2 separate regions of the Homo sapiens genome follow, and region 1 is reported to be linked to region 2. The links are microRNA targets in miRTarBase. Many come from high-throughput screens and were not tested one by one. Region 2 holds a microRNA gene; the other region holds the end of a gene's coding sequence.

The links. Region 2 holds the annotated microRNA hsa-miR-8071 (CGGUGGACUGGAGUGGGUGG, at 2,831-2,850, opposite strand). A microRNA usually pairs through its seed, bases 2 to 8, with sites in the 3' UTR of a target mRNA and lowers its output. Matches are read on the target gene's strand: a 7mer-m8 pairs with bases 2 to 8, a 7mer-A1 pairs with bases 2 to 7 and ends in A, and an 8mer does both.
Region 1: miRTarBase lists TEDDM1 as a target of hsa-miR-8071. Seed matches in the 3' UTR shown: 7mer-m8 at 3,669-3,675.

Annotation. Positions count from the first base shown.
Region 1 is chr1:182,395,962-182,399,961 of GRCh38, forward strand. It overlaps TEDDM1 (transmembrane epididymal protein 1), which reads right to left. Exons shown (of 1, transcript NM_172000.4): 1 at 2,156-4,000. The coding sequence ends at 3,703. Among named protein-coding and RNA genes, the nearest start is that of TEDDM1, 2.7 kb to the right of the region's middle.
Region 2 is chr14:105,638,434-105,643,052 of GRCh38, reverse strand. It overlaps MIR8071-2 (microRNA 8071-2), which reads right to left and starts at 2,885; the gene lies at 2,821-2,885. It also overlaps IGH.

The DNA.
Region 1 (4,000 bases), not on the chromosome of region 2:
CTTAGTTAACAACCTGGGGAAAATGTCCTATTGAGAAAATTAAAGCCATACAATTCTAGAATTAGATCTTCACATCATTCTATCTTAAAGATGAGGAACTGAGGCTTAGATAACTCATAGTAACTTGATGAAGTCATGTTTGGTTAGTATTTTAGAGCTTAATGAGCTTTCAAGGTGCTGTTCTTTTTCTGTTCCCTTTCCTTTAGTCGCTTTGGTCTGTGGGTGATCTGTTCCGGGGCCACCATCTCTAAAATACTGAAATTCCTACAGTCCTCACTGAGGGAGGTGCAGAGGACAGGGAGCAACCATTTACCTCTCAATCCTGGGTATGCTTACCCAGTGACTTCTGTATAGCAGACACTCAATATATATTTTCTTTGTGAATAACTAGATTAGCAGAAAAAAACAACACCATAGGAAAGATTCTCTTTGAAGGACTCTTTGGAGATCATTTTTCACATCTGATAATCTGCCTCCAGTTTCATTGTTTTGTGAATCGGGTTTTTTTAGATACATTTTGTCCTTTATTCTCAATTTACACTGTACAGATCGTTGTTCTGTAGATTGATTGGAACATTATTGAAGCTAATTAAAAAATTTAGAGAATTTAGCATTCTGATCAAAAAATTATTTAGATCAGAGTATGTGCTTTAGTTGGTACCATTCCCAAAGAAATCCTCAATGGGATCCACAGCCCTTCCTCCCTCCCCTCCCACCTCATTAGTTAATTTGGATCCCTGTTTATTTCACATTGACTCGCCAAATTTTAACAGGAAACAAACAGCCCTAGGGTATGTTTTCTGGATGCTTGGGCAATTCTTAGTCTGCTTCTGGATTTTTCCTGTCCGTTCTCCTCTTCCACTTCTTTTAAACCCGTTCTCCGGAGACTTGTTTACTGGGGTTGGAGAATCAGAAGCTTGGCCGGGGTGGTGTGAACCTAGTGCCCTCTTGTGGAATTTTGTGAGAATGACAAACTCCCCCAAAGCTTGAGTGCTTTGAGTTTTTTCTTGAGTAGCCTTTAGTGGGAGGACCTTTCTGTTACATCTTAAATCTAGTAAGTTAATAACATGCAGGCTTATTGCCTACACTGAATATTTGAAAGCTATTATGTTGGGGGGTATCACTTGATTACCAGAGGCTTATTGTTATAGAATTAAGCCTCATTACAGGAAACAGGCAGCTAAGTGTTTGTGCTTTTTCATCACCTCCCATTAATGTGTAAGAGAGGTAAAGAGAAAAGGAAGGCTCCCAAAGAAAAGTAATTGAAAAAAGGCTAGGAACCAAGAGTAAAGGGGAAATGGCAAACTTTAGAAGCCTTGGTCAAAAACAAGTCTTATCCCCAGCTCTTGCTTTGGATCTGAGCCCAGAAATGTAAGACCCAGCCAGAAGTTGAGAGTCTGCCAGATTCTCACCCCCCGGGGGAGATGGGGGTCAGGGTAGGGGACAGAAAGTGTTGCATAAACCCACTCCTAAGGGAGGTCTAGGGTGTTTACACTGTGCTGTTTGCTTTACCTGGGCTTTCTGGCTTGTTTTCTTTTCTTTCTTTCTTTCTTTCTTTCTTTCTTTCTTTCTTTCTTTCTTTCTTTCTTTCTTTCCTTCCTTCTTTTCTTTTTTCTTTTTTTTTTAAGACATAGTCTCACTCTGTCACCCAGGCTAGGGTGCAGTAGTGCAATCTCAGCTCACTGCAACCTCCGCCTCCCAGGTTCAAGTGATTCTCCTGCCTTAGCCTCCCAAGTATCTGGGATTATAGGTGTGGGCCACCACACCTAGCTAATTTTTGTATATTTAGTAGAGACAGGGTTTCACCATGTTGACCAAGCTGGTCTCGAACTCCTGACCTCAAGGGATCCGCCCGCCTTGGCCTCGCAAAGTGCTGGGATTATAGGCGTGAGCCACAGTGCCCAGCCGTCTTTCTTCTTTCTTTCACAATTTCATTTTTTTCATTTTGAGATAACTTGTTTCTCCATTGCCATTAGCAAAGTCACTGTGGCCCAGAGGACACAGTCACACTTGCGTCAGACACACCTGCACTTAAATTCCTGTGTTGCCTCATACCAACTGTGAGACTTGGGCAAGTCAACCTGCTGGAGTCTCAGTTTTCTAGAGACTCCTTATAGAAACATTTGTGAGGATTAAAAACAATAACAGAGTCAACTTCAGAAACAAGTTACTGGATTTTATTATACCCCAAAACAAGGAAGAGAGTGGGTGCATTACTAAGGCAGTGACTCAGTGTTCAGGACTGTTGTTGTCACCCAGAGAGATTCACAAAACCTCCAACCTGTCCAGCAATACATTTAGAAGAAACAGGATTAGGGAAGACTCTGGAAGCAAAGAAGGCTTTATTAAACATAACCATGATCCATAGCTGGAGTATACATAGGAAATTTGGTAACTTGGATAAGGCAAAGTCTTTTCCCTTTAGGAGCCTGTACTTTAGTGGGTGAGGAAGAACCTTCTGAAAGAAAATGATTTCAGCAGCAGTATAAAAGAAAGTGGGTCACCTGTATGAGCAAACTAACAAAGCAGATTTAATGTAAGTGCCCAAGAGTTCCAAAACAAGGGAATCAGTAAGAGTTCTGGAGAAGGCCACCTTGGGGATACTTGGTGCGGTGTGGGGGTGGATGTAGGTTTATTCTGGGAATCGAATAACATGGTAAATATGTGACTGTAGGATGACTGGCTGTGATTTGCAAGGAAAAGAAATTTGCAAAGACCCAAGAATGGTATCTGCTAAATTGCATGTGCAAGGGTGGTCATGGTGAAAAGGAAAGTTTGGGCTAGAATAAGAGTAATAAAATGAGAAGTCAGGGAAGTACCAAGCATTTGAATGCTATAAAAATGCTATAGCAGTTGAATTCTATACAAATTTAAATTATGGAAATTTGAAATGTTATTAAGTATTTAAAAAGTCTCACTTTATATGTAAAGTTTGAAATGAAGCCAATTCTTGAAAGCTGCGGAGAGAGAAGGAGGCAAAGCGAGCATAATTTCAGCCTGTATGAATTAATTATAAATTCTATCATGCTATTTCCACATGGTGGCACCACTTTGGTGAGCACGTAAAGTACCCACTTTTCTTTATCAAGATGAGATTTGAATGGGTCCAGTTTTGAGTTGTGAGAAGTCTTTATTCCCTCAGGTAAAAGGCAATCCCTTGTGCCTGATGACGCTAATGACAGCATAACTGCTAGACTCTGTTCTCCTCCCTTCACAGCTCTTCCTTTTGTTGCATTCTCTTCCCCCAGTGGCTTTTCTTGCACACTAAGAAGAAGTGTTCTCCTCGTCCTTTTCCCTCCCTCCCGCAAATCCCATCAGCGTCTCTTTCTCAATCCCTCTCCCCTTATCTTCTCAGTAATTAGAGGCTCAGGGACAGAAAATGCACCAGCACGGGCATGGTGGCAGGCTCCTGTAATTGCAGCTACTCGGGAGGCTGAGGCAGGAGAATCGCTTGAACTCGGGAGGCGGAGGTTGCACTGAGCTGAGATTGTGCCATTGCACTCCAGGCTGGGCAACAGAGCGAGACTCTGTCTCAAAAAAAAAAAAAAAGAAAAGAGAAGAAAAGAAAATGAACCAGCAGACGGGACCAACTGCTAGCCTTCAAGGCCATTACCTTTACCAAGGAGGGTACCATGCTCGTGGCTGAGGAGCCAACAGGAGGAAGATGAGGTGGACGATGTGCCAGCCACTGTAGGCCCTGTCTCAGGGGGAGCTCTTTGGAAGGAGGAGAGCCTGGTCCTCTTTCTCTGACTGCTCCACTTCCTGTAGCAACTTGTAGAGGGGTCCTGGAGTGCTTGCATAATATGGAGCTTCTTTGGGCCCAGTCAGCTTCAAGCTGGGTCTGAAACAATGATACCAAAAGGAAGAGAAGCCATAGATTCCCAACAGGAATGAGGCATTGATCATCACATGCCAGCAGAAGAAGGTGGTGACAAACATGATGTCACTGATGTCATCGTCCTGCCATGGGTAGCCAGAGACGGGTCTGTATAGAATAAAG
Region 2 (4,619 bases):
TTCCGTGGGTCAGGCCGAGTCTGAGGCCTGAGTGGCATGAGGGAGGCAGAGCGGGTTCCACTGTCCCCACACTGGCCCAGGCTGTGCAGGTGTGCCTGGGCCGCCTAGGGTGGGGCTCAGCCAGGGGCTGCCCTCGGCAGGGTGGGGGATTTGCCAGCGTGGCCCTCCCTCCAGCAGCAGCTGCCCTGGGCTGGGCCACGGGAAGCCCTAGGAGCCCCTGGGGACAGACACACAGCCCCTGCCTCTGTAGGAGACTGTCCTGTCCTGTGAGCGCCCTGTCCTCCGACCTCCATGCCCACTCGGGGGCATGCCTAGTCCATGTGCGTAGGGACAGGCCCTCCCTCACCCATCTACCCCCACGGCACTAACCCCTGGCTGCCCTGCCCAGCCTCGCACCCGCATGGGGACACAACCGACTCCGGGGACATGCACTCTCGGGCCCTGTGGAGGGACTGGTCCAGATGCCCACACACACACTCAGCCCAGACCCGTTCAACAAACCCCGCGCTGAGGTTGGCCGGCCACACGGCCACCACACACACACGTGCACGCCTCACACACGGAGCCTCACCCGGGCGAACCGCACAGCACCCAGACCAGAGCAAGGTCCTCGCACACGTGAACACTCCTCAGACACAGGCCCCCACGAGCCCCACGCGGCACCTCAAGGCCCACGAGCCGCTCGGCAGCTTCTCCACATGCTGACCTGCTCAGACAAACCCAGCCCTCCTCTCACAAGGTGCCCCTGCAGCCGCCACACACACACAGGCCCCCACACACAGGGGAACACACGCCACGTCGCGTCCCTGGCACTGGCCCACTTCCCAATGCCGCCCTTCCCTGCAGCTGAGGTCACATGAGGTGTGGGCTTCACCATCCTCCTGCCCTCTGGGCCTCAGGGAGGGACACAGGAGATGGGGAGCGGGTCCTGCTGAGGGCCAGGTCGCTATCTAGGGCTGGGTGTCTGGCTGAGTCCCGGGGCCAAAGCTGGTGCCCAGGGCAGGCAGCTGTGGGGAGCTGACCTCAGGACACTGTTGGCCCATCCCGGCCGGGCCCTACATCCTGGGTCCTGCCACAGAGGGAATCACCCCCAGAGGCCCGAGCCCAGCAGGACACAGTATTGACCACCCACTTCCTGTCCAGAGCTGCAACTGGAGGAGAGCTGTGCGGAGGCGCAGGACGGGGAGCTGGACGGGCTGTGGACCACCATCACCATCTTCATCACACTCTTCCTGCTAAGCGTGTGCTACAGTGCCACCATCACCTTCTTCAAGGTTGGCCGCACGTTGTCCCCAGCTGTCCTTGACATTGTCCCCCATGCTGTCACACACTGTCCCCATGCTGTCCCCACATGTCCCTGACACTGTCCCCCATGCTGTCCCCACCTGTCCCGGACACTCTCCTCCGCGCTGTCTTGACCTGTGCCCAACACTGTCCCCCACGCTATCCCCCCATCCCCAACAATGTCCCCCACAGTTTCCTCCTGTCCCCTATCCCCGACACTGTCCTCCACACTGTCCCCACCTCTCCCTGTCACTGTCGCCCATGCTGCCCCCACCTGTCCCAACACTTTCCTCCAAGCTGTCCTCACCTGTCCCCAACACTCTCCCCCACACTCTCTCCACCTGTCCCTGACACTCTCCCCCATGCTGTCCCCACCTGTCCCTGATGCTGTCCTCCACACTGTCCCCACCTCTCCCTGTCACTGTCCCCATGCTGTCCCCTGTCCCTCACACTTTCCTCCATGCTGTCCTCACCTGTCCCCAACACTCTCCCCCACTGTCTCCACCTGTCCCTGACACTGTCCCCCACACTGTCCCCACCTGTCCCTGATGCTGTCGTCTGTGCTGTCCACATACTGTTGGTGACCTGGCTCTGTTCTCCAAGTTCAAGCCTCAGAGCAGGCAGTGGTGAGGCCGTGGCACCTGGGTGGCCTGAGGGGTGGGCGGGCCTTGGGGGCAGGGCTGTGGCCTCGCTCACCCCTGTGCTGTGCCTTGCCTACAGGTGAAGTGGATCTTCTCCTCAGTGGTGGACCTGAAGCAGACCATCGTCCCCGACTACAGGAACATGATCAGGCAGGGGGCCTAGGGCCACCCTCTGTGGGGTGTCCAGGGCCGCCCAGACCCCACACAGGAGCCGTGGGCCATGCTCAGCCATCACCCAGGCCACACCTGCCCCCGACCTCACCGCCCTCAACCCCATGGCTCTCTGGCCTCGCAGTCGCCCTCTGACCCTGACACGCCCCCCTTCCAGACCCTGTGCATAGCAGGTCTACCCCAGACCTCCGCTGCTTGGTGCATGCAGGGCGCTGGGGGCCAAGTGTCCCCTCAGCAGGACGTCCCTGCCCTCCGGCCCGCCAGGTGCTCACACAAAAGGAGGTAGTGACCAGCATCCCAGGCCCCCACTCAGGCAGGACCTCGCCCTGGAGCCAACCCTGTCCACGCCAGCCTCCTGAACACAGGCGTGGTTTCCAGATGGTGAGTGGGAGCATCAGTCGCCAAGGTAGGGAAGTCACAGCACCATCAGGCCCTGTTGGGGAGGCTTCCGAGAGCTGCGAAGGCTCACTCAGACGGCCTTCCTCCCAGCCCGCAGCCAGCCAGCCTCCATTCCAGGCACTCCCGTGAACTCCTGACATGAGGAATGAGGTTGTTCTGATTTCAAGCAAAGAACGCTGCTCTCTGGCTCCTGGGAACAGTCTCAGTGCCAGCACCACCCCTTGGCTGCCTGCCCACACTGCTGGATTCTCGGGTGGAACTCGACCCGCAGGGACAGCCAGCCCCAGAGTCCGCACTGGGGAGAGAAGGGGCCAGGCCCAGGACACTGCCACCTACCACCCACTCCAGTCCACCGAGATCACTCGGAGAAGAGCCTGGGCCATGTGGCCGCTGCAGGAGCCCCACGGTGCAAGGGTGAGGATAGCCCAAGGAAGGGCTGGGCATCTGCCCAGACAGGCCTCCCAGAGAAGGCTGGTGACCAGGTCCCAGGCGGGCAAGACTCAGCCTTGGTGGGGCCTGAGGACAGAGGAGGCCCAGGAGCATCGGGGAGAGAGGTGGAGGGACACCGGGAGAGCCAGGAGCGTGGACACAGCCAGAACTCATCACAGAGGCTGGCGTCCAGCCCCGGGTCACGTGCAGCAGGAACAAGCAGCCACTCTGGGGGCACCAGGTGGAGAGGCAAGACGACAAAGAGGGTGCCCGTGTTCTTGTGAAAGCGGGGCTGCTGGCCACGAGTGCTGGACAGAGGCCCCCACGCTCTGCTGCCCCCATCACGCCGTTCCGTGACTGTCACGCAGAATCCGCAGACAGGGAGACTCGAGCGGGAGTGCGGCCAGCGCCTGCCTCAGCTGTCAGGGAGGACTCCCGGGCTCACTCGAAGGAGGTGCCACCATTTCAGCTTTGGTAGCTTTTCTTCTTCTTTTAAATTTTCTAAAGCTCATTAATTGTCTTTGATGTTTCTTTTGTGATGACAATAAAATATCCTTTTTAAGTCTTGTACTTCGTGATGGGAGCCGCCTTCCTGTGTCCACGCGCCTCCTGCCCCCGGTGGGAAGCACGGTCAGGAGGAGGCTGGTCCAGCTGCACCTCGGGGGCTCCCTGCATACGCCCCCCGCCTCCTGCAGCCACACGCATTGCCCGAGCGACCCTCCCTGGCCCCTGTCGCTACATGGACCCCCGGGGTTTCTCCTCTTTTCTACATGGATGCAGTTTCTCCTCCTGCTGGGCACGGTGCTGCCTGCCCTGGTCACTCTGCGGGGGACAGGGCCTCCAGGGAAAGCTGGGTCGAGGCTGGGAGCTGGCTCAGGCTGCCCAGGCAGAGCCACAGGGAGGGCCTTCCAGAACCAACCATGGTCCGAAGCGAGAGGTGGGTGTCAGATCTGTGTGAGTCAGCTCAGGACCACAGCGGGGCGGCTCCCACAGCAGACATGGATCCTCCCAGGCCTAGAGACCAGGAATCTGAGATCAGGATGCAGGCAGGGCTGGTTTCTCTCAAGCCCTCTCTCCTTGGCTTGTAGACACCGTCTCCTCCCTGGTCCTCACATGGCCATCCCTCTGTGTGCCCGTGTCCTAAGCTTCTCTTCTTATAAGAACACACATCGGATTAGATTAGTGACCCCCTATGAACTTAATGACCTCTGTAAAGACCCCATCTCCAAATAGTCACATTGTGAGGCCAGGGATTAAGACTTGAATATATGAATTTGTAGGGGCCACGATTTAACCCATCACAGTCCAGACTCTGGCCCCCAAAATTCATGTTCTTCTCACATGCAAAACACATTCATCCTGTCTCAGCATCCCCCTGGGCACTAGGTCATGTAGCAAGGACGGATTTTCAACAGAAATAACTATTGCAACAGAAGAAAGAGTCCGGCATGACCTGGACTCACCTTCATCTGTGCAGAGGCCACAGCCTTGTAAAGGGAGGTGGTAGGGGGAGCAGGGAGGGTGCTCGGGGCTCAGTCGTCGGGGAAGGGAAAAGTTGCCCAGCGCTGGTCAGCGTCCCCGGGATGGGACCCGCTGTGTCTGTGCCGGCCACTGTTGAGGTCAGGATTCTGTCCTCCCAGAGCCTGGAGACACAGGCCCCATCCTTCCCAATGGGGACACTTCAGGGAGTGGCTC